7 linked regions of the Homo sapiens genome follow. The protein of the gene in region 2 purifies or fractionates together with the protein of the main gene of each other region. This does not show direct contact. Each region holds a gene or a part of one and is shown on either strand. Other genes may lie near its edges. The genes, in order: SRGAP2B, CALD1, TRAP1, PRR11, MYO5C, IARS2 and SPTBN2.

The links.
Region 1: the proteins of CALD1 (region 2) and SRGAP2B purify together in Homo sapiens (co-immunoprecipitation; one large-scale study listed by IntAct). This does not show direct contact.
Region 3: the proteins of CALD1 (region 2) and TRAP1 purify together in Homo sapiens (affinity purification with mass spectrometry; one large-scale study listed by BioGRID and IntAct). This does not show direct contact.
Region 4: the proteins of CALD1 (region 2) and PRR11 purify together in Homo sapiens (affinity purification with mass spectrometry; one large-scale study listed by BioGRID and IntAct). This does not show direct contact.
Region 5: the proteins of CALD1 (region 2) and MYO5C purify together in Homo sapiens (affinity purification with mass spectrometry; one large-scale study listed by BioGRID and IntAct). This does not show direct contact.
Region 6: the proteins of CALD1 (region 2) and IARS2 purify together in Homo sapiens (affinity purification with mass spectrometry; one large-scale study listed by BioGRID and IntAct). This does not show direct contact.
Region 7: the proteins of CALD1 (region 2) and SPTBN2 purify together in Homo sapiens (affinity purification with mass spectrometry; one large-scale study listed by BioGRID and IntAct). This does not show direct contact.

The regions. Positions count from the first base shown.
Region 1 is NC_000001.11:144,892,829-144,896,328, reverse strand, and holds part of SRGAP2B (SLIT-ROBO Rho GTPase-activating protein 2B), read left to right. Parts: intron 1-2,819; coding exon 2,820-2,921; intron 2,922-3,500. UniProt on the Homo sapiens protein: May regulate cell migration and differentiation through interaction with and inhibition of SRGAP2. In contrast to SRGAP2C, it is not able to induce long-lasting changes in synaptic density throughout adulthood.
Region 2 is NC_000007.14:134,967,932-134,971,229, forward strand, and holds the end of CALD1 (caldesmon), read left to right. Parts: intron 1-408; coding exon 409-414; 3' UTR 415-622; coding exon of another isoform or gene 623-658; 3' UTR 659-2,798; downstream 2,799-3,298. UniProt on the Homo sapiens protein: Actin- and myosin-binding protein implicated in the regulation of actomyosin interactions in smooth muscle and nonmuscle cells (could act as a bridge between myosin and actin filaments).
Region 3 is NC_000016.10:3,707,525-3,711,024, reverse strand, and holds part of TRAP1 (heat shock protein 75 kDa, mitochondrial isoform 1 precursor), read left to right. Parts: intron 1-622; exon of another isoform or gene 623-640; intron 641-3,500.
Region 4 is NC_000017.11:59,197,246-59,200,745, forward strand, and holds part of PRR11 (proline-rich protein 11), read left to right. Parts: intron 1-298; coding exon 299-358; intron 359-447; coding exon 448-544; intron 545-3,500. UniProt on the Homo sapiens protein: Plays a critical role in cell cycle progression.
Region 5 is NC_000015.10:52,243,805-52,247,304, reverse strand, and holds part of MYO5C (unconventional myosin-Vc), read left to right. Parts: intron 1-290; coding exon 291-388; intron 389-1,262; coding exon 1,263-1,349; intron 1,350-1,839; coding exon 1,840-1,951; intron 1,952-2,737; coding exon 2,738-2,949; intron 2,950-3,500. UniProt on the Homo sapiens protein: May be involved in transferrin trafficking. Likely to power actin-based membrane trafficking in many physiologically crucial tissues.
Region 6 is NC_000001.11:220,142,632-220,146,131, forward strand, and holds part of IARS2 (isoleucine--tRNA ligase, mitochondrial precursor), read left to right. Parts: intron 1-312; coding exon 313-503; intron 504-1,286; exon of another isoform or gene 1,287-1,745; intron 1,746-2,877; coding exon 2,878-3,022; intron 3,023-3,500.
Region 7 is NC_000011.10:66,687,717-66,691,216, reverse strand, and holds part of SPTBN2 (spectrin beta chain, non-erythrocytic 2), read left to right. Parts: intron 1-933; coding exon 934-1,178; intron 1,179-1,273; coding exon 1,274-1,412; intron 1,413-2,036; coding exon 2,037-2,121; intron 2,122-2,367; coding exon 2,368-2,564; intron 2,565-2,905; coding exon 2,906-3,048; intron 3,049-3,137; coding exon 3,138-3,213; intron 3,214-3,298; coding exon 3,299-3,349; intron 3,350-3,500. UniProt on the Homo sapiens protein: Probably plays an important role in neuronal membrane skeleton.

The sequences.
Region 1 (3,500 bases), on a different chromosome or scaffold from region 2:
TTGTGTGGTTGTGTGTACAAGTCAGAGTGAACCTCATTCCTGTGGATAAGAGCCACCATTTCTCCTACTGGTGAAATTAGAAGGAGGTTGTATAGGGCTTATGCGATAGAAAAGATCAAGATGGACCTTTGGGTATAGTTGGCTTTAGGAGGAGGAATTTTACCAAGACACTGTTTTGCTGTCTCTGTACTACTTCCTGTGTGTTAACTCCATTCTCAGACAGGCCATTCTCCCATGGAGGCAAGGTGACTGCATTTCCAGCCTTCCCTGGTAGGTTGAAATCTAGTGGAAAGAGTCTCTGCCTCCCTCCTCAAAGCCCCCATAAAGTTTGTGTGTCTCATTGGTTTTGATTGGGTAAAGTGCTTATGCCTGGGTCCATGCAAAGCACGTGGCCTGAGTTGTGGAGTGGGAGGTTCCCCTCACCGAGGGCAGTTAGACCAAAGCTACCAAAAAAAGGAGGAGTGGACGCCGGGGACCAAAAAACAGCAACATGTGTGCTCCTCAGGAATGATGCTTCCCTTAAGATTAGCATCCAGACTCTAGAAATCCCCACTCCAGAATGACAGCTGTGGCAGTGGAACCAGAGGATTTGCTGTCATCAGTTGGCCTCTATGGAGAGTGAGATGCTGTCCTGGAGATAGAAATGTGGAGTTGGTTTCCTTCCTTTCCTTCTTGGGGAAAATCAAACCATTTACAGTTCATTTCCATTGCTGTGGCTTAGGAAATGTCAGTGTCTGAACAGATGGAGAAGTGAGATGGCAGCATGTGCAATTAGAATTGGGGGAAGGGGTGTCACCAAGCCTCAGGAAGCCCCATTCCTCACCTGCCCTGGCTTCTGGTCAAACTTGCCTTCCAAGCACCTTCTCCAGCTGTCACTGAGGTTCCTTCCCAGGGATCAGTGGAACTTGGGGACCAGCTGAGTGGAGTGATACATTTTCTGGTGTTAGTGACTGAGTTGCCTTCTGAGCCAAACAGCTTGTCTCCATAAAGGAGGAATCCAGATGCTGGGTGCTCAAGCCCCCTCCTCCCCCTGTCAGAGCCTTATTTCCATACTCCGGAGTGCAGCTGAAGTGTATTACCTTGCACCCTGGTAGCGGACCACTGCCAAAGCATGCATCATCATCAGCTCTGCTACTTCTTAAAGGAACAGGCTTGGAGGTGGTTTTTCCCTCCATGATTCCTCTCTGCTAGGTCTGGGTTACTTTAAAAATCAATAGCTCACTCTTCTGCCAGGGCCCTCCCTTTATGTAATATAGCTGATCAGTGGCTGAGCCAGGCAGGGGCCAGGACCAGTCCTGGAGCTTGTGAAGGTTCCGCATTCTAGCCTAGCCTTCATATGAGTGAAAATAAAAAGAGATGAGAGGGTGGGTCATTCTTGGCCTCTGCAGCCAGTCTATCCCCATCAGTGTGGGTTGTCTGCAGATTGTGGAGGCAACAGGAGGGAGCTGCCTGGAAGTCGTTGAACTAGGGCCAAAGATTGGGTAGCATTTTGACCGGAAGCCTTAAAATTGGCCAAGGTCCCACACTAACTGGTGTTCTGGGGTGCACAGCACATGAATTGATGCCAAGTGCTCTCAGATGTACTAGGAGGAGGTGCTTGGCTCCATTTTTGGTGCCCTCAGAGGCTGTGGGACTCTGGATGCCTGACTGGTGACATCAGGCAGCCAGAGAATTTCACTCTTGGCGCTAACCGGTTCTGGCCACTGAGCTTTCTCCATTGTGTCTGCTTATCCAAGAGTTAGAGTGAAGTCAGCTCTCTGTGGATCTGAGAGTTGGCTCAGGCCAGCCTCTCAGCTGGGGGAAGAGGTCAAGTCAGTTGGGAGCTTAAAAGCCAATGGAGGAAAAGGTCAAGTCCCAGCCCCCTCCATTTGAAGAAAGGTTTTTTCTTTTCAAGCAAGGGAATGGTCCGTGGGCATGTGAATGTGCCCACTCTTTGCTGAGGAGGAAGGAGGCCATTTCTATCCAGATGTCTCTCTGCAGGCAAGAGGCTAAAGGACGAACGGTAACAAGGTGACAGGAGCTGTCTCCACATGGGTCCTGCCTCCCAACTCTCTCAGCCTTCTGCTCCTCATCTGTCATCCAGGGGACTGTGGATGACCTCATCCCATAACCACATCTCCAATGGGAGACAGTGGAACAGCCATTCCTTCACACAGGGGAAAGCTAATTGGCAATAATCCTTGCGGGAAGGTCAGACTCCTCTCTTACAGATCTAGGGAAGGCCTGGTAAAATGATGGCTCTTTGGAAAATGCCAAGCTCCTTCAGATTCCATACCCTCTCGGGCCCTCAAGCATAGGCAACGAACTTGTTCCTGGCTTCACGCTTTCTCATTGAATCAAAGCTCTCATGCATGGCCTGGATTTGTAAACACATGCTGGCTGCCAGCAGTGGCAAGTTAGCCTCCTGACCCACTTCTCTCCTGCTTTCACTCTGGTGTATGAAGGGGGATGAGGGAGGGGCCAGAGAGGTGGCCACTTGGACCTTTGGCAGGAAATCTTCACTGTGCCAAAGCATTGTGTTTCTGGAGCCGGAGCTGCCTGAGGCACTCTTCTCCAGCCTCCTCAGCCTTCCATGGAGCTGCAGACCCTACCTAGACCTACCCCTGCCGGGCTCCAAACAGATCCCCCTACCCATTCCTTTCATGTACTGTTTGGTCCTGGAAGAGGCTCACACAAGTTGGCTTTGGGTTTTGCTTCAACATAGAAACCACGAGCCTTATACCTTGAATATGGGTAGTTTCATTGCCAGTAATGGGAACTCTGGAACTGCCAAAGGGACTGTATCCTCTTTCTGACCTGGTGTTGCTTTCTTTTGTTAGGCTTCCCAGCTCTGTGCCCAGCAGCCTGTCCAGAGTGAGCTGCTACAGAGATGCCAACAACTGCAGTCTCGCTTATCCACTCTAAAGATTGAAAACGAAGAGGTGAGTTTCTTCCTTAGGAGGCTCAAAGCCACACTCTTAGTTTCCCTGTTGAAACTTTTGCTGCTGCCCGTCTGGGAGCAGGTGGAAGGAGCATGCAGAGAATGTCCGGGCGGCCGCAAACATTTCCTAGCCAAATGTAGGCTTGGACTTTCCCCCTCTGCTACATCCTGCCCTTGAACTCCAGGAAGTTGCTCTTGCATTGCCAAAGGTTGTGCTCTATTTTGAGCTTTTGCGAAATGCTTTTTTTCCCCTCTACACATTTAATCAAAATGGCACTTGGCAGCTGTGTGAACAATATTGTGTCTCTGAAACCACCTCCTCATGCCTAGCTTTTTCCAGCATGTTCAAACAAACAGAGGCCTTTGACTTTGACACTTCAAACATCTCCATCCTCTTAGGAAAGGGTGAGTTTCTTCTGGGCTCAGTGTATTTGCTTTCAAAAAGCGGTTCAAAAGGGCGGGTGATCCAGCTTTCTGTTGAGCTCAGATGGCTTCTTACCTTGTGTCTCAGTAAGTCTTACTTTCTGCAGGAAGATCAGGAAGAAGTAGGGATAGGTCACTTAGTTTGCAAATGAGCAAA
Region 2 (3,298 bases):
TCAGGAGTTTGAGATCAGCCTGGCCAACATATAGGGAAACCCCGTCTCTACCAAAAATACAAAAATTAGCCGGGCGTGGTGGTGTATGCCCGTAATCCCCAGCTACTCAGGAGGCTGAGATGGGAGAATCACTTGAATCTGGGAGGCAGAGGTTGCAGTGAGCTGAGATCACACCACTGCACTCCAGCCTGGGTGACAGAGCAAGATTCCATCTCAAAAAAATAAAAAGTAAAATAAAAGATCATATTTGAATGGAATGCCGATAATAATCCTCCCTTTCATAAATATTTATTCCTGCCATACTATTATTCATTTTTCTTCTGACTATAAAAACCATCTGCCTGAAACACTGCAGGCTGTCAGTTTCACACTACAGGCTGTCAATTTCAAGTTCTCTTCTCTTGGCAGGTTTGAGACAGTTCCAGAAAGAACCCAAGCTCAAGACGCAGGACGAGCTCAGTTGTAGAGGGCTAATTCGCTCTGTTTTGTATTTATGTTGATTTACTAAATTGGGTTCATTATCTTTTATTTTTCAATATCCCAGTAAACCCATGTATATTATCACTATATTTAATAATCACAGTCTAGAGATGTTCATGGTAAAAGTACTGCCTTTGCACAGGAGCCTGTTTCTAAAGAAACCCATGCTGTGAAATAGAGACTTTTCTACTGATCATCATAACTCTGTATCTGAGCAGTGATACCAACCACATCTGAAGTCAACAGAAGATCCAAGTTTAAAATTGCCTGCGGAATGTGTGCAGTATCTAGAAAAATGAACCGTAGTTTTTGTTTTTTTAAATACAGAAGTCATGTTGTTTCTGCACTTTATAATAAAGCATGGAAGAAATTATCTTAGTAGGCAATTGTAACACTTTTTGAAAGTAACCCATTTCAGATTTGAAATACTGCAATAATGGTTGTCTTTAAAAAAAAAAAAGAAATGTACTGTTAAGGTATTACTTTTTTTCATGCTGATGATTCATATCTAAATTACATTATTATGTTAGCTGACAGTGGTACTGATTTTTTAGGTTGGTTGTTTTGTGGATTTCTTTAGTAGTGATAGTAGCCTGAACCACATTTTAGATAACTCAATTATGTATGTATGTGCATACACATATACAAACACACTAATGGTAGAATGCTTTTTTATGTGCTAGACTATTATATTTAGTAGTATGTCATTGTAACTAGCCAATATCACAGCTTTTGAAAAATTAAAAAATCACACTATATTAATATTTTATATTTGCCAACAGAAACATGGCAGATAGGTATCAATATGTTTTCAATGCCTGATGACCTATAAGAAGAAAGTATTGAAAAGAAGAGAGATTAGAACTGTTAGAAGGAGTTGAAATTTTCTAAAAGACATAGTATTTAGTTTATAATTAAATGCATTCTTGAAGTCCAGTGTGAATTTTATTAATGCTATCATCTCGACCAAGCTCAAAGCCTACTTATTAGAAACAATGAAGTTCACAATAGGTCATAAGGTCTCTTCCTTTTCTAAAATTGAAAGACAAGAAATTTAGTGCCAATATTGTACAGACAGAAATTCCATGTATGAGTCTCAACAAAGACTACCTTTGGCTAAATGTCTAGAAGCAGAGAAGTAAAGTGAGCAAAATCCAGTGTTGAGGAGTCATGACAGTACTTTGATCTTTATATACTCTGAAGCATTTCTTCAAACTTTTCTACTTTTATTTGTCATTGATACCTGTAGTAAGTTGACAATGTGGTGAAATTTCAAAATTATATGTAACTTCTACTAGTTTTACTTTCTCCCCCAAGTCTTTTTTAACTCATGATTTTTACACACACAATCCAGAACTTATTATATAGCCTCTAAGTCTTTATTCTTCACAGTAGATAATGAAAGAGTCCTCCAGTGTCTTGGCAAAATGTTCTAGTATAGCTGGATACATACAGTGGAGTTCTATAAACTCATACCTCAGTGGACTTAACCAAAATTGTGTTAGTCTCAATTCCTACCACACTGAGGGAGCCTCCCAAATAACTATTTTCTTATCTGCAGTATTCCTCCAGAAGAGCTAACCAGGGCAGGGCTGGCATGAGAAGTGACATCTGCGTTACAAAGTCTATCTTCCTCATAAGTCTGTAAAGAGCAATTGAATCTTCTAGCTTTAGCAAACCTAAGCCAAAGGAAGGAAAGCCATGAAGAATGCAGAAGTCAAACCCTCATGACAAAGTAGGCACAAGTCTACAATAAGCTAAATCAGAATTTACAAATACAAGTGTCCCAGGTAGCATTGACTCCCGTCATTGGAGTGAAATGGATCAAAGTTTGAATTAAGGCCTATGGTAAGGTAACATTGCTTTGTTGTACTTTTGAACAAGAGCTCCTCCTGATCACTATTACATATTTTTCTAGAAAATCTAAAGTTCAGAAGAGAATGTATCACTGCTGACTTTTATTCCAATATTTGGATGGAGTAAGTTTTAGGGTAGAATTTTGTTCAGTTTGGATTTAATCTTTTGAAAAGTAAATTCCTTGTTTACTGGTTTGACTATAATTCTCTGTTATCTTTACGAGGTAAAACTGCAAGCTGACTAGCATGTTCTGTGAATCTGCCATTCCTAAAAATTTTATAAACACTTGATACTTTTCACTGATAATGGATCGCTCCAATAAACATATATTGTGAAAATGCATCCACAATAAATGGAATTCCTTCCTGCAAAATGTCTTTTTCTCACTTATTTTTATGTACAATATTGATAGTGAGAGGTATGTCTATTATAATAAAGATTATGGCACAGTAAAACCTGTATTTCAGGTTGAGTCTTGGTTTCACTCTTTAAAGAAGAAAAGCATTTTCATATTTTTAAATTACCTAATAAAATATAGAAAATTGGTCTTATGTTGACAACTGACCTAACACGTATGGAAAAGGTTGAAGAGGGATTTTGCAAATCCTTCCTAAAAGAAACTATCGTCCAGGCACAGTGGCTCACGCCTCTAATCCCAGCACTTTGGGAAGCAGGAGGATTGCTTGAGCCCAGGAGTTCAAGACCAGCCTGGGCAACATAGCAAGACCCCTTTCTGTACAAAAAAAATTAAAAAGCCAGGCATGGTGGCATATGCCTGTAGTCCCAGATACTTGGGAGCCTGAGGCAGGAGGATCGCTTGAGCCCAGGAGGTCGAGGCTACAGTGAGCCCTGATAGCACCACTGCACTCCAGCCTAGGTGACAAAGCAAGACCCTGTCTCAAAAAAAAAGTAACTATCGATTGTCCCTCCATCCTCCTTCTCATTGCCAGTGTTGTCACAT
Region 3 (3,500 bases), on a different chromosome or scaffold from region 2:
CTGGGTGTGCCTGTGGTCCCAGCTACCCAAGAGGCTGAAGTGGGAGGCTCCCTTAAGCCTTGAGAAGTCGAGGCTGCAGTGAGCTGTGATCACGCCACTGCACTACAGTCTGGGTGACAGAGTGACAGTGTCTCAAAAAAAAAAATATATATATATATATATATATACACACACACATATAAAAGAAATTAATTTTGAGATAGCTAAATTAAATGCCATATTAAGAGCAGGAGGCTATTCAGCAATGCTGCTGAGAAGAAGACAGAAGGACGTGGGTCCTTCTAATGTAACTATGTGTGTCGGGTTAGTGATATGCACCTCGAAGGAGAAATTAAGACAGCACATTGCCATGTTAGTTCACACTTGCCAGTATTTCAGCATTTGTCAGGCAATGGAATGTTCAAGCGAATTTTCCACGAGGCTGACTTTAAAACATTTCATTTTAACCATTATGATGAGAAGTCTTTCTAGAACACTCCATCATTTGATGGCCCATGACTGAACCTCTCTTGGATGTTTTCAGGGTCATTATTACGGGTGTTAATGTTTGGTCTTCTGTTTTAATATGTAGGCTCCCGTAGGGCCATTGAAATGTGAAGAATCCTTCGTCTATGAAGTGTCCCCACATCAAAACTGCATTGTGAGTGTTTATATTTTTGGCCTCTCTTACTGTGGCCTTAACTTGCAGGTCTGTCTGGAGCCCTGTTCTCTCCTTTCCTAGTTTGCAGATGTGGCTGGGAAACTTGTTAGCATCAAATTGTTAGAATGAGATGGATTTCATATGGGGCCAGTAGTCTTCCATGAGCAAAGCTCAGGGTGAGGGCTTCAGGCCCATATTTTGACTATTCCGAGGTGCCCTTTCGCTTTTTGTTCTTTTTCTTTATGTTCAAGGAGTTATGTTTCCTGATGAATGAAGTATCAGTATATCATAGTAGAGAACGATTAGACCAGGTTCTGGAACACAGGAAACCTCAAGAAACAGTGAGTGTTGAGAATGCCAGAGCTAAGAACTCAGACATTTGTGAGGGAATACAGGTCTTTCTGTTCAGAATGTTCATGTACTTAAGAATCTTCTCGCCAGGCGCGGTGGCTCACGCCTGTAATCCCAGCACTTTGGCAGGCTGAGGCGGGTGGATCACCTGAGGTTAGGAGTTTGAGACCAGCCTGACCAACATGGAGAAACCCTGTCTCTACGAAAAATACAAAACTAGCCGGGCGTGGTGGCGCATGCCTGTAATCCCAGCTACTTAGGAGGCTGAGGCAGGAGAATCGCTTGAATCTGGGAGGTGGAGGTTGTGGTGTGCCGAGATGGCGCCACTGCACTCCAGCCTGGCAACAAGAGCGAAAACTCCGTCTCACACACACACACAAAAAAAAGGGAAACAAAGGTAAACTGGGAAGGAACCGTGTGTAATCTTCCGTACCTTGCATTTTCCACTTATATTCTGGGGTTTGTTTCCTGTCGCCACAGAGCTCTGGTATTCCATAGCGAGGATGTTTTGTAATTTATGTAACCCTCTCATGGCGGACATTTAGGTTGTTGCTGAGTTTCCCCAAGATAACAGACGGCATTGCCAACAGTTTCTCACACCTTCACCAGTGCTAGAATGACAGTATTTAAAACATCTGTCAATCTGGTAGTGAAAATGCTATCTCGTTTTAAAGTGCATTTCCTTAGTTATGAGTGTGGTAAAACATCTTTTACTAGGACGTAAAGCCATTGATGTTTCTTGTTTTTGTGAATGGCCATTTTTCTCTTGAACCAATGGCCTTTTTCTTTTTTTTTTTTTTTTTTTTGAGATGGAGTTTTGCACTTGGTGCCCAGGCTGGAGTGCAGTGGCGTGATCTTGGCTCACCGTAACCTCTGCGCTAGCCCTTTTAAATAACTTTTAAAAATTGAGACAGTGTCGGGCCAGGCACGGTGGCTCACGCCTGTAATCCCAGCACTGTGGGAGGCCGAGGCGGGCGGATCATGAGGTCAGGAGATCGAGACCATCCTGGCTAACACGGTGAAACCCCATCTCTACTAAAAATACAAAAAATTATCTGGGCATGGTGGCGGGCGCCTGTAGTCCCAGCTACTTGGGAAGCTGAGGCAGGAGAATGCCGTGAACCCAGGAAGCGGAGCTTGCAGTGAGCCGCGATCGCACCACTGCACTCCAGCCTCGGCAACAGAGCAAAACTCCATCTCAAAAAAAAAAAAAAAATTGAGACAGAGTCTGACTCTGTTGCCCAGGCTGGAGTGCAGTGGCGCCATCTCACCTTACTGTAACCTCCGCCTCCCGAGGTTAAGCAGTCCTCTCGCCTCAGCCTCACAAGTAGCCGGGATTACAGGCACGCGCCACCATGCCCGGCTCATTTATTTTTATTTATTTATTTATTTATTTTGAGATGGAGTCTCGCTCCGTCGCCCAGGCTGGAGTGCAGTGGTACAATCTTGGCTCACTGCAACCTCCGTCTCCCAGGTTGAAGCATTTCTCCTGCCTCAGCCTCCCTAGTAGCTGGGACTACAGGCACCCGTCACCACGCCCGGCTAATTTTTGTATTTTTAGTAGAGATGGAATTTCACCATGTTGATCAGGCTGGTCTTGAACTCCTGACCTCATGATCCATCCGCCTCAGCCTCCCAAAGTGTTGGCATTACAGGTGTGAGCCACTGCTCCTGGCTTTCTGGCTAATTTTTGTTTTTTTTTGTATTTTTAGTAGAGACAGGGTTTTGCCATGTTGGCCAGGCTAGTCTCAAACTCTTGACCTCGGGATCTGCCCGCCCCCACCTCCCAAAGTGCTGTGATTACAGGCGTGAGCCACGGCACTAAATTTTATTTTAGAGGCAGGGTCTTGCTTTGTCATCCGGGCTGGAGTGCAGTTGTGCGATCCTGGCTCGCTGCAGGCCTGACCTCCTGGACTCAAGTGATACTCCTGCCTCATCCTCCCAAGTGGCTGTGACCTCTTCCTCCCAAGGAGCATGTGCCACCATGCCTGGCTAATTAAAAAACATTTTTTTTAGAGATGGGGTCCCACTATATTGCCCCGGCTTGTCTTGAACTCCTGGTCTCAAGTGATCCTCCTACTTCTGCCTGCCAAAGTACTGGGATTACACGCAGGAGCCGTCGTGCCTGGCCCCCAGTTTTTTTCTTAATGTGTTTGTCTTTTTTTTTTTTTTTTTTGAGTTAGAGTCTCGCTCTGTCTGTTGCCCAGGCTGGAGTGCAGTGGCACGATCTTGGCTCACTGCAGCCTTCGCTTCCCGAGTGCAAGCAAGTCTCCTGCCTCAGCCTCTGGAGTAGCTGGGATTACAGATGCCCGCTGCGACTCCCAGCTAATTTTTGTATTTTTGGTAGAGACGGGGTTTCACCATGTTGGCCAGGCTGGTCTCGAACTCCTGACCTCAGGCGATCCACCCACCTCAGCCTCCCAAAGTGCTGGGATTACAGGCATGAGCCACCTCACCCGGGTGTTTGTCTTTTGACTTAAATTTTTATGTGGTCCTTATATTTATGGCC
Region 4 (3,500 bases), on a different chromosome or scaffold from region 2:
AAGTTCTAATTTTTTTTTTTTTTGGAGACAGAGTCTTGCTCTATTGCCCAGGCTGGAGTGCAGTGGTGCAATCTTTGCTCACTGCAAGCTCTGCCTTCCGGGTTCACGCCATTCTTCTGCCTCAGCCTCCCGAGTAGCTGGGACTACAGGCGCCCACCACCACACCTGGCTAATTTTTTGTATTTTTAATAGAGACAAGGTTTCACCGTGTTAGCAAGGATGGTCTTGATCTCCTGACCTTGTGATCCACCTGCCTCAGCCTCCCAAAGTTCTAATTTTTATATCTTTGTTTTATCAGCACTCCTGGAAAAAGTCAGATGGATCTGCGGAAACTGCTTAGAAAAGTCGATGTAGAGAGGTAATACACTCTCATATCTTTATGCCTTCTACGTCCATTTTAAAAGTTGCCATAAAATACAGCTACTGTTATTTTCAATACCTTTGCAGGAGCCCAGGTGGAACCCCTCTTACCAATAAGGAAAATATGGAAACAGGAACAGGACTGACTCCAGTGATGACGCAGGCCTTAAGGAGAAAGTTTCAGGTAACCCTTTAGGAAAAGAATATTGGTTCCTTTGCTTGAAAATAATTTGGCCTGGTGTGGTGGCTCATGACTGTAATCCTAACACTTTGGGAGGCTGAGGTGGGGAGATTGCTTGAGCCTAGCAGTTCAAGATGGGCAACATGGTGAAACTCTGTCTCTACAAAAAATACAAAAAATTAGCCAGGCGTGGTGGTGCATGCCTGTAGTTCCAGCTACTTGGGAAGCTGTGTTGGAGGATCACTTGAGCCCAGGAGGTCAAGGCTGCAGTGAGCTGTGATTGCACCACTGCACTCCAGTCTGGGTGACAAAGCAAGACCCTGTCTCAAATAAATAATCATAATCATAATTTATGATCATAATTTAAAGCAGCTTTCTTAGTAACAATAATTTTTAAATGGTACCGTATTTTGCAAAGTATTTTCATATTTAGGCTTCATAAAATTCTATAAAATACAGGTAGGATTGGCCGGGCACAGTGAGTGGCTCATGCCTGTAATCTCAGCACTTTGGGAGGCCGAGGTGGGCAGATCACATGAGGCCAGGAGTTTGAGACCAGCGTGGCCAACATGACAAAACCCTGTCTCCACTAAAAAAATACAAAAATGGCCGGGCACGGTGGCTCACGCCTGTAATCCCAGCACTTTGGAAGGCCGAGGCAGGTGAATCATGAGCTCAGGAGTTTGAGACCAGCCTGACCAACATGGTGAAACCCCGTCTCTACCCCAAATACAAAAATTAGCAAGGTGTGGTGGCGGATGCCTGTAGTCCCAGCTACTCGGGAGGCTGAGGCAGGAGAATCACTTGAACCTGGGAGGCAGAGGTTGCAGTGAGCCAAGATTGTGCCACTGAACTCCAGCCTGGGTGACAGAGCGAGACTTAGTCTCAAAAAAAAAAAAAATTAGCCATGTATGGTGACTCGTGCCTGTAATCCCGGCTACTTGGGTGGCTAAGGCATGAGAATCGCTTGAACCCAGGAGACGGAGGTTGCAGTGAGCCAAGACTGCACCACTGCACTCCAGCCTGGGTGACGGAGTGAGACCCTGTCTCAAAAAAAGAAAAAAAAGAACTATAGGTAGGATTATCATGTCTATCTGTAAATGTCTGATTTTATTAATCCCTTTAGTACATATTTTTAGTAAATATTTACTAAGCACTTCCTATATGCCCAGCAGTGTGTTGAAGTACTGGGAATATAGTGGTAAGCAAAAACAGATACAGATTACTGTCTTGAAGCTTTCAGTCTAGTGGGGAAAATAGGCATTCATCAAATAATCCCATATTTGTATAATATCACATGGCAGTATGTGCTATGAAGGAAAGGAATGAGGTTCTGTGGGAACCCAGAGAGGAACTTGATCTAGCCTGGATGATCTAGGAGGGACTCCCTTAGGAAGTGATGATGCTTGAGGTGAGAGTCGAAGAAGGAAGAGGCATTTACTGGATAGGGTAACTGTGGGGTGGGTCCACCATGAGTGTCAGGAAGGAGAGAGTTCCAGGCAAAAAGAACAAAATTCGTAAGAGTTCCATGGGGTGAGGGATCATGGCCTATTCAAGGAACTAAGAAGTGACCAGTGTGGCTGTAACACAGAGAGGGAGCCCAATGGTGGTGAAAGACAGGGATGGAGATGTAGTTAGGAGTCAGACCCTGCAGAGTTGAAAGGAAAAGGTCTTGAGAGCTTTCTTTGTCACATTCATATACAACCACATACCCAACCCAGTAGATCAGCTGGCCCTGGTGTGACTTCTTCCAAACCCTGTTGATCTTAGTCATCTCCCTAATTGCCTCTATCATTAGATCTGTGAAGAACAGCCATCCGTCGGCTGCCCCTGCTGGAGTGCTGGAACACAGGGCTGCTGGCATCTTTGGCTTTGAAGTTTATAGTTCGTTCTCTCTCTGGATGCAGGGACATAGCAGACTCCACTGCTGACACTTTCCACCCCAATATTGTCTTCCTTTTGTTCCGTGTTTGAGAATCAGTGCTTTTTGTGGGACAATATAATTTCTCTCTTACCAATCAACTTGGTCCTACTGGGCACTATACAGCTTTCTGCGTAGTGGAGATGTGACCAGGTTCTTCTTTCCTCCTCTTAGAGCATGCTACCCCTAATCAAGTTCCTTGGTGATACCCAAAATTGTGAAGGGCAGGAGCAAAGGGACGAGGCCTCACGGGTCTTAGCCCCTTGCTTTTTCTGTTTAGCTCTAAGATCTTTGTTGTCACTGCCCCTACTTCATAGCAGGTACAGTGAGTTGAGAACTCTGGAAATGGATAAACGATAATAAATTGTAAAGCCACATATTGAACAACAACAAAAATCACAGATAAGACCTATGGCATATGTTGTGCTGCCAAAATCTACTCAGGAGGAGGATGTCTAGTTAAAATTGTTGTTAGATATAGATGACTTATCCCACCCAACCCTTAGGCTTCTTTTTTTCTTAAACTGTGAAGCAACTGTATCAGGTTTTGCATTGGCTTCAGGTATCAGAAATCTGACTATAGTGGTTTAATCAAATAGGGACATGGCAGAGTGTAGTGGCTCATACCTGTAATCCCAGTGCTTTGGGAGGCTAAGGCCGGAAAGTCGCTTGAGGCCAGGAGTTTGAAACCATCCTGGGCGATATAGCAAGACTCTGCCTTGACAAATAAATAAATAAATTAGGACTTTTTTTTTTAATATATACAACTAACTCATTTATTTTATTTTATTTTAATTTTTTTTGAGACGGAGTCTCGCTCTGTCGCCCAGGCTGGAGTACAATGGCGCAATCTTGGCTCGCTGCAAGCTCTGCCTCCTGGGTTCACACCATTCTCCTGCCTCAGCCTCCCGAATAGCTGGGACTACAGGCGCCCGCCACCACGCCCGGCTAATTTTTTGTATTTTTAGTAGAGACAGGGTTTCACCGTGTTAGCCAGGATGGTCTCGATCTCCTGACCTTGTGATCCACCTGCCTCGG
Region 5 (3,500 bases), on a different chromosome or scaffold from region 2:
TCGTCATACTTCCACCTCCAAGGCAGCACGCACTGGAGCAAACCACGCTCTTGCACAATAACATGGTTTATTCAGTTCTCTGCTGTCTGGGAGTATTAGTGTTCTGTCCACAACAGTAGGACATGCTGATAAACCACAGTCACGGACTGAAACCTTTCATAATAGGTGTTTATGCATGAGGTTAACTTTTCTTCCTATTGAGTAACTTAACAAGGTTGGGCTGCTTTTTACCGTGATGTAAGCAGTAAATTATTTCAGAGCCATGTTTGATCTCTAGCTTTGTTTCCTAGTTCCGCAGCTCTCTGTACTTGCTCATGGAGACCCTCAATGCGACGACGCCCCACTACGTTCGATGCATCAAGCCAAATGATGAGAAGTTACCCTTTGAGTAAGTGTTCTTATGCAACACACAGCGAAGACGTGGGAAGGCAGTTTCTGCCATAAAGTTGGAGAATTTGCTTCCAATTGTCTTGAGATTACCCTGTTTCTGGGTTTTTTTTTAATGATTCAGAACAATGCTGCCCTTTACATAAAATGTTAGCTCAGCCCCTCTGGTTAAACCCCCTCATCTCCAGGGCTAAGCAAAAGGGCTAGATTTGAAAGAATCTTCTACAACTAAAGTTTTTGCAACTTGAACCTTTTACTTGATTAAAAGAAGAATGAGTATGTGTGTTTGTAGAAGGTCATAGAAGGTCAGAACATTTGTCCTCAGACATGATGGCATGAGGCATTATTCTTGTTCTCTGGGACCCATGGAGGAGACCCAAAGCTTGTGAATATAAGGTGTAACAAGTCCCTTGTAGCTTGCTAGAGCTGAAAGAGGTGCCTAAAGGGGGATGAGCTGTCTATGGAGGTGGTGAGTGTGTGTATGGGTCACCAGATGGGTGAGACCTAAGCTGCAGAGCTACCTGTTGGGTGTTCTGTAGAGGAAATTCAAGCATCAGTGGGTGCTTGGGCCAGGCGAGCTAGCATATTTCTTTCCACCTGGTTGTCGTTTGAAGCTCACCTCAAAGGCCAGTTCCCCCATGGCCTTCTCAATGCCACCTCCATCAGAGTCAGCTGCTCCTTTCTCTATATCCCACTGCATCTTTATGGACTGTTTTGCAGAGGTGCTATTTTTCTTGGTCATGCAATAGAAACTTATTAAGTATCTGCTGGGTACCTGGCATAGGGTCACAGTCTAGCCAGGTCTGCTGTGCCTGTTTATGGGCATGTTGAGCAATTACGATGCCTCAACACATAATATCATTGTCTTTTTAAAGATTTGACTCCAAAAGAATTGTTCAGCAGCTGCGAGCCTGCGGCGTTTTAGAAACGATTCGCATTAGTGCACAGAGCTACCCTTCCAGGTATGTTGTCCGTCCTTGTCTTGGAGGGAAAAGTACCTGACATCAGAGCTATGCTGAGAACCAAGGACATGGCTGCCATGATTTTTGTCACATACTTTTGGCTTCTGTAAAGTGCCCCCAAGATTTTCCCACTGCCCTGTGGAAGTCCAGAAGAGGTTGAGAAATAGGCTTTGTAGGGGTCGGAGGTCAACACCACCTTCTCACCCCATCACTGCATCTCGGCTGCTGGTGGTGGCCCCACCGCCTCCCCCGTGTACTAGGGAAGACGCTGAGTGGGAGAAAGAGCACAATTGCTGGGGCAGACAGGAGTGCTCAGGGTGGTCTTGGTAGTGTCCCAGGCAGGCAGGGTATCAAAGATCAGTGCCTTTATCCTCAGGACAGATTGCACCACCCCCGCCCTATGACAACAGTGGCAGGTAAGGCAGCGGAGTCCCCAGACACAATGTGCTTCCTCTGACACTCCTGGCTTTGATCCCCTTTGATTTTCCAGGTGGACATACATCGAGTTCTACAGTCGCTACGGCATTCTCATGACCAAGCAAGAGCTTTCCTTCAGCGATAAAAAGGAGGTGTGCAAGGTGGTTTTACACAGACTCATCCAGGTCAGTTTCCCCACCTCCTGGGATCATGGTCTCCTTCCTGGAAGCACATCTCCCAAACATGCTGTTTCATCTTTGTCTTGAATGCTCAGGACTGTAATCATGAACACCTGAAAGGAAAGAAAATGTGCCCTGAGCATTTGTCTGCTGAAGAGACCATAGCAGAGTGCTCAGTGGGCCATGAGTCCCCGTTAGGGACCCACATCCGAACTCCGGCCTCCCCAGTGTCCTCGTATCCTGTTTAGCTCTCCCACGATCTAACCCAGTCCTCTGTGGACCAGGCTTATAGGATATGGTCAACTGGGGTTGTCACCAAGCCACATGGGCTCCAGGCATGGTGCCTTGTGTGGATTGACATCATTGCTGCAGCGATGAGTTGTGATGGGAAAGAGATGGGGAGTTATAAGGTCCAGCAAAGGGGATGGTGAAGAGAACCCAAAATGGAGACAGAAAACCAAACTTCCCCAGTTTCTTCTACTCCAATGTGGAGACCACGAGAGAGTGGCTGAAGTTCTCTGGCAGCCCAACTGAGAATCGCCGCAAATGACACTCACTCCCCTTCTCACCCACAAATGGATTCCTCAGCCTAAGTCCCATTTCTTCCTCCAGGGTAATTTTAAACAAACAACTCAAAGTATACATTTCTAGATCATGATGTGAGTTTTCTGCCTTAAATGTCAAAATCACAATATTTCTGGCACCTTTGAATCCCTAAAGCTCTTTTCCAAATACTGTATTATAGAAAATCTGACAGATTTTAATTCTAACTATATCATTTTTCTCTTCCAGGATTCTAATCAGTACCAGTTTGGTAAAACCAAAATTTTCTTCAGAGCAGGACAAGTGGCTTATTTAGAGAAACTTCGATTGGATAAACTGAGGCAGAGTTGTGTTATGGTACAAAAGCACATGCGTGGCTGGCTCCAGAGGAAAAAATTCCTCCGAGAGAGACGAGCCGCCCTGATAATCCAGCAGTACTTCCGGGGTCAGCAAACTGTGAGGTATGTTGGAATCAAGGAACACATGTGGAACTGTGGGGCTTTCTGTGCTGATCATCTCCGGCGGGGAGGACTCATCAAGGACAAGGGACCTTTCTCCTGTGACCCAGGGTGCAGACGTGCATGGGTCCCCTTTGTGGTCGTGAGCATTAGGGCAAGAAAGGTCCGTCTCTCAGGGGCAGGTAGTGCTGGCTCTGCCTGGTGTCTGTGTGGTGAGCCGACACCCAGGGCCCTGCAGGGAGGAAGCGCTGGTGAGAGTGTTACTAAGGAGAGTCAGGGTTCCGGAAGCTCAGGGAGAGGCCCGGGGCCCCTTTCCTATGGGAACTGAAAATGCATAAGATCAGCAAGGCCCTAGTGAAGATCCAAAGGACAGATGTCAAGAATAGCCAGCGACCAGCCTGCCAGCAACAGGTGGGGTGCACCATGGCAGAGGGGGTCCCTGCAAGGCCTGGCAGCAAACCAATCACAGAACCCCTAAGCAGGAAGACCACAGCAGCCCCAGCCAAGCCAAGGGCTGAGGGGAGGGTGGTCCACCAGCTGCGCTGATCCTACCT
Region 6 (3,500 bases), on a different chromosome or scaffold from region 2:
GGGGGAAGTCACTTATAATGTTACTCCTGATAGCTGTTAATATTGGGATATTTCTATTTATTTTTTTCTAAGCATCCTTTTTTTCTTTGAGATCTTATTATATATTTTCTCTTTTGTTTAAATATAACAAAGATTTTCCAATGCTGATATAAATGTTTTGTAAATAATTAGGATGGATCCATAATATTTCATCACTTGATTACCATAAATAACAATTCTTATTTCCCATTAATGGTAACTATTTAATGGTTAGAGCTTCATATACAGTTTAGGATGTTTGTAAAGCAGTTTACTATTTTTGTTCTTCTGAAGAGCCCAAGAGTGTTTTCCGTACTGGGTGGATTAGTACTAGTTCTATCTGGAAAAAGCCCGGGTTGGAAGAAGCTGTGGAGAGTGCGTGTGCAATGCGAGACTCATTTCTTGGAAGCATCCCTGGCAAAAATGCAGCTGAGTACAAGGTTATCACTGTGATAGAACCTGGACTGCTTTTTGAGATAATAGAGGTATGCAGCAATATGTACCTTTTGAAATGGTGTTAGTATCATAGAGCTTTGCCTGAAATTTGCTTTTAAAATGTGTCTAAATTAATCAAATAACATTGGGTTATGTGTAACTTTACTATGCAATTATTCTATTATGTTCCTTTTCACATACTTTTTCACTTTTAAATATCTTTTAATAAATTAAGCAAAGTCATGCACATTTAAAAAAAAGTGTCTAAATTAAAAAAAAATTAATTTAGAAATTAGGGTTTCCGTCTTCTAATCCTGATATCATCACTGATTCTTTTGTTTCCTATTTCACCATATTCTTTTCCATGTCTTGTAAAACGTGTTCTGTGCATGTAACACATACATATTACTGTGTAGGGATAGGGAAGGAATAGATAAAGTTCTGTTTCAAACAAAAGGCCTCAGGACTATTTAGAAGACAGGGGACATATAAATTGATCGCGATCGTCTTTGAATGTATAAAAAATGGGAGTTTTGTATTAAGGGTCAGGTTTCCTGAGAATTTCATCCATCTGGACCAGATTCAAAACAAACCCAAAAAGAGTTTCCATTTTTATTTTGTGAAATCTGGAGAAAATTCATTTTCTCCAGCAAGTTACCACATATATTTCAAAGCATTTATCCTATTTTTATTTCTAGAAGGGCCATCAGAATTTTATTCTTGGGATTTTTAGGGGTTGATTGGCCAGATTGGCTTATAGCTTAACATAATGATGTGATTTTTCTCCAGTCTAAATGCTTAAGAAGAGAATTGGCAATGAATATAATTTTTTTTCCACGGGGCATTTTATTTGTAAATATATGTATTACATCCCTAGAAAAAGAATCCCAGGATTTTCCCTCCTGTGTGTTTTCATCTTGCTTCTTCATGGTCCATGATGCCAGCTGAGGTTGTCAGTACAATGAAACCAAACTGGCGGGATGGAAGCAGATTATTTTGCCATTTTTCTAGATCTTTGCTTTGCACATCAAATCTGGGGCTGATGTCTCCACACTTGTTTAGCCTGCCTGTGAGGTTCACAACAATTTTCCCAGCTCTGTGACCATCAGTGATTTCAAATTTGCCAATGTAACCATGCTTCATCATCACGGTGAGAAACAGGATGATGACTTTGGAGCACGGCCTAATAAGCACCTGGCTTTTGCCTCTCTTTTTGGCATTGTTGATGCTCTTGAGAGCATCAGCCAGGACATTCATGCGCACCATTGTGGTGGTGCAGAAAGACGGTGGAAGAGCTATTTTTTAAAAGTTTTATTAGTGTCAGTTTTCTAAAAAACATCCATCTTATTTTGTATGGTAAGCTCAATTTAAATTTTTAATGATGTAATTAGCAAGATTAAGATTTGAGCTTGAAATAGCTAGTAGGTATAATAGATGAGATTTTCCCATTTTAAAATTTAAAACTTGGGAAGCTGTTCATTTTACAAGTGAGGAAGTGAGGACTGCTGAAGCTGTGACCTAGACAGGGTAACACAGCCTAGTCCTGGCCTTTTTTCCTACATACTGTGTTTCCTTTGTCTTCAGTCTTTCTAAGTAATGAACTGAAAAGAAGAACAGCTTGTTTGGATCAATTTTATTGGAAAAAATACTTTGGGATTTTCAAAAACATGAATGTATTTTCCTTAGGAATCATACCAAGTAGCTGTAAGATGGAGTCCTGGTTCTATCCATTACTAATTGCATAAACTTGTTAAAACCAAATTAATCTCTTTGAGTCTCTTATTTCTCATGGGCTTTAATTTTTAAAGGAATGTCTATGTTGGTTAGCTTACAAACTCACTTTGAAGATCAAAATTACAGAGAAAAATGTGTTCATCAGACAAATTCAGTCTACTTCATAAGTGTTCTGCGTATTGTTCAGATTGCCACTATCAGTATACATTACTAAAAGCTGGTACCTGTTGAGATAGTATTTTAGCCCCTCACCCAATGATACATGAAAAAAAAAAAAAAAGGCTTTGAGGCTGACAGACCTGGGCTTGACCTGCAGTTCCACCACGTATGGGTTGAGAATCTTGGGCAAGTTAACCTCTCTTTGCTTGTTTCTTCATTTGTAAAGTGAGGATAATAAACACCATATAGGTTTTTTTTGTGTGTATGTATGTGACAATTAGAAGTAAGAGACATCTTAGGATCTAGCAAAGTGAAGTGCCTGGCATTCTCAATAAATACTGTTGATGGAAATATTTAGTTAAAACCTTTTATGCTAATTAGGATTGATACATTTAGTGATGTTTGCTCAGGATGCAATGGTATACCAGAAGGTTCCTCTCTAAACGTGAGATTTTATAGTGTTTCTTTTTATAACCTCAGTTTATGGTACAAATTTAACATAAACTGTAACTTTCACATGCTTCCTTCCAGATGCTGCAGTCTGAAGAGACTTCCAGCACCTCTCAGTTGAATGAATTAATGATGGCTTCTGAGTCAACTTTACTGGCTCAGGAACCACGAGAGATGACTGCAGATGTAATCGAGCTTAAAGGGAAATTCCTCATCAACTTAGAAGGTAAGAAGGAGATGAAAGTAACAAGTAACATCTGGAGAATTGAATAATTATAGGTCATCTCCAACTTTCCAGTGGACTGGGTTTATTCTAAAGGTAGATATATACTTGGAATACATCTTTCTATGGAAATAATAAAAACAATTGCCAAGTTTCTAAGCCCGCTCTTAAAACTATCTTACCTGATGATCTTGGGAACTGAGGGCTAGGGACAGAAGAGGGAGAGAGATTTTCTTTCTGTCCTTTGAATAAATAATGGTCACTGTATATGAAGTTTATGTTAGGCTGACTTGCTCCCATTCCTCTTTTGTGTCCCCCTGCTTTGATACTTAGTACCCCAGTACTGGCCCAGTCCTGCCCACTGTTCCCCAGTATTGATTCTAAAATTTCCTATTATGTATACCCCGGATTAAAATATTTAGCCATTCTTGTGAGGGGTTAAGGAGGAAGTTTTATTGAGCTCATTCTAACAATGGTATCT
Region 7 (3,500 bases), on a different chromosome or scaffold from region 2:
TCCCAGGAGCTAGGGTAGAGCTCAGAAATGCTGGGAGGACGGCACTCTTTCGAGGGCCATTTCGAGATGAGGAAATTGCTCCAAGAAAACATCTCTGTTTGGCCAGGCGCGGTGGCTCTCGCCTGTAATCCCAGCACTTTGGGAGGCCGAGGAGGGCGGATCATCTGAGATTGGGAGTTCGAGACCAGCCTGACCAACATGGAGAAACCCCTTCTCTACTAAAAATACAAAATTAGCCAGGCATGGTGGCGCATGCCTGTAATCCTAGCTACTCAGGAGGCTGAGGCAGGAGAATCACTTGAACCCAGGAGGCGGAGGTTGCAGTGAGCTGAGATCCCTCCACTGCACTCCAGCCTGGGCAACAAGAGCGAAACTCCGTCTCAAAAAGAAAGAAAACATCTCTGGCAGGGGACATCTAGCCACTGCATTCACACTTTTGATGACAAGCCCCCTTGAGAGCCCATGATGTCTTCAGGGGTTCCCAGTGGCCAGGAGACTCTTCATGCTGCGCTAAATCAGCCTGTTAGTGCTTCCCAGGCTTGAGCTCTAGGCTCACACTCAGTAAGCATGGATCCTTCCTTCAACCACTAGAACCCATCAGCCCCTGCCTGAATCCCCTTTTCAGGCTAAGTAGCACGTTCTAGCAATCTCCAAGGTCTATCACATCCTAGACAGGCCTCTGAAAGTTCAACTGGCCAATGGCTCTTTTCCAGATCCTCCCCCAGTTAAGCCCAGGTGTCTAGATGAGACCCAACAGGGCAGAGTGTGGCCAGCCCCTGCCTTCATCTTTCCCAGCACCCCCACTCCCTGGCTCCTCCCCCTGCTTCTTTGGCTGTGAGACAGGCAGGAGGTGAGAGTGGCAGCCAGGACTGAGGCAGGCTGCGGCTCCTTGGAGTCCCCCGCTCTGCCTGACTCTGACCCGGGGCTCCGCAGGTCCAGCAGGTGCAGGACGACGGCCACCGGCTCCAGAAGGCCTACGCTGGAGACAAGGCTGAGGAGATCGGCCGCCACATGCAGGCCGTGGCCGAGGCCTGGGCCCAGCTTCAGGGAAGCTCTGCCGCCCGCCGGCAGCTGCTGCTGGACACCACAGACAAGTTCCGCTTCTTCAAGGCTGTCCGGGAACTGATGCTCTGGATGGATGAGGTCAACCTGCAGATGGATGCCCAGGAGCGTCCCCGGTGAGAATCCCAGGGCTCAGGGCCTCCACGGGTTGTGTGGCTGGGCTGTGATGGGGCTGTGGGCAGCAGGTGATGCTGTTTCTGCCTCCCCCCAGGGATGTGTCCTCCGCGGATCTAGTCATCAAGAACCAGCAAGGCATCAAGGCAGAGATAGAGGCCCGGGCAGACCGCTTCTCCTCCTGCATCGACATGGGGAAGGAGCTGCTGGCCAGGAGCCACTATGCGGCCGAGGAGGTGGGTGAGGCCTGGGTGGCCGGGCCATTCTCACTGTGCAGTGCTGAACGCTGACTTCTTGGTGGCTTTCTGCTTCCTCTCATTCTCTCTTTGCAAGAAACCTTTCATTCTCTCCCCTCAGTGCCATTCACGGGTTTCTCGCATTCTGGAAATCTCTCCCCAGAACCGTCTGCCTCTTGACATCAGAAATCACTGGTCCTGGGCCAGGCATGGTGGCTCACGCCTGTAATCCCAGCACTTTGGGAGGCCCAGGCGGGCAGATCACCTGAGGTCACGAGTTCGAGACCAGCCTGGCCTCCATGGGTTGTGTGGCTGGGCTGTGATGAAACATGGTGAAACCCCGTTTCCACTAAAAACACAAAAATTAGCCGGGCGTGGTGGCGGGCACCTGTAATCCCAGCTACTCGGAGGCTGAGGCAGGAGAATTGCTTGAACCTGGGAGGTGGAGGTTGCAGTGAGCTGAGATTGCGCCACTGCATTCCAGCCTTGGTGATAAGAGCGAAACTCCGTCTCAAAAAAAAGAAAGAAAGAAAGAAATCACCTGTCCCCCTGGATGACTCCCCAGGGGCCGTGGAAAGATCTCACATCCTGGTGCTAACTCATATCTCTGCCCCCCGCCCCCAGATCTCAGAGAAGCTGTCTCAGCTGCAGGCACGGCGCCAGGAGACAGCTGAGAAGTGGCAGGAGAAGATGGACTGGCTTCAGCTGGGTGAGCTGCCAAGGGGGCCCCAGGCCCTGTGGGGAGTGGGGGGCATCCTGCACCCTGTGGGTTCCAGAGTAGGTGAGACTAGGAACCCTGGGTGTGAAACTCACGATGCCCAATCTTCGTGCTGCCTGGCACAGCTCTGGGGCAGTGGCTTTCTCTGTGTCCCTGTTCTTGAGGTTGCCATGGCCACTGTGCCCTGCCAGTGGCCACTCTGACCCACCATCTTCCTGCAACCCCCGATCCTGCCAGTTTTGGAGGTGCTTGTGTTTGGAAGAGATGCAGGGATGGCAGAGGCCTGGCTCTGCAGCCAGGAGCCACTGGTGCGCAGCGCTGAGCTGGGTTGCACGGTCGACGAAGTTGAGAGCCTCATCAAGCGGCACGAGGCCTTCCAGAAGTCAGCAGTGGCCTGGGAGGAGCGATTCTGTGCGCTGGAGAAGCTTACTGCGGTGAGGGACACAGGACCCCGGATGCCCACTCCAACCTGCTCCCCTGACCTGTGCTGGCTTCTGCTTGGAGAAGACATGTCTTCTCTCTTCCCACTGCACCAGTGGCCCCCAGATGTGAGCTGAGAGTGCCATTGTCACCACACCTTTAGGAGGTGTCAGTTCCCCTGGGTGATGCCGAGACACCTTCTCCCGCTTTGTTTCTTGTCCCCACCATCTTCTCAAATTCTGTTCTCCTCTTATCATATTTCATCAAATTAGAGTTGAGACATTTCAGCTCTCCCTGTTTCCCTGGCCCTCTTACACGCAACCTTCTACACGCTGAATGCAGCATTTTTTGACAGCTAGAGGAGCGGGAGAAGGAGCGAAAGAGAAAGAGGGAGGAGGAGGAGCGGCGGAAACAGCCGCCTGCTCCCGAACCCACAGCCAGTGTGCCTCCAGGGGACCTGGTGGGCGGCCAGACAGCTTCTGACACCACCTGGGACGGGTGAGAGCCAGGATGCCTGGGTAGGAGGAGGCGGCTGAGCCCAGGCCACCCAGGGACTAATGATTCTGTGTTGCCTTTGGTCATCCCAGAACCCAGCCACGGCCACCACCATCCACACAAGCACCCAGTGTTAATGGAGTCTGCACAGATGGAGAGCCCTCACAGGTGACCCCACTGTCCCTCTGTGCCCCCATCGGAGTCGTAGCCCCTCCACCCCCGCACATCCTTTTACAGATTCTTGTCCTTGCAGCCCCTGCTGGGACAACAGAGACTTGAGCACAGCAGCTTCCCCGAAGGGCCGGTGAGTTCCCCTGCAAGTGTGGTGTTGATAACTGTGAGGCGAAGGGTCCAGAGGGGGTGGTGAGTGCGGGTGGGGGAGTACTGGGGATGGGATGGGAGAGGGCAGAGGCTCACAGGCAGCTTGGGGGCAGGAAGACCAACTCCTGGACACG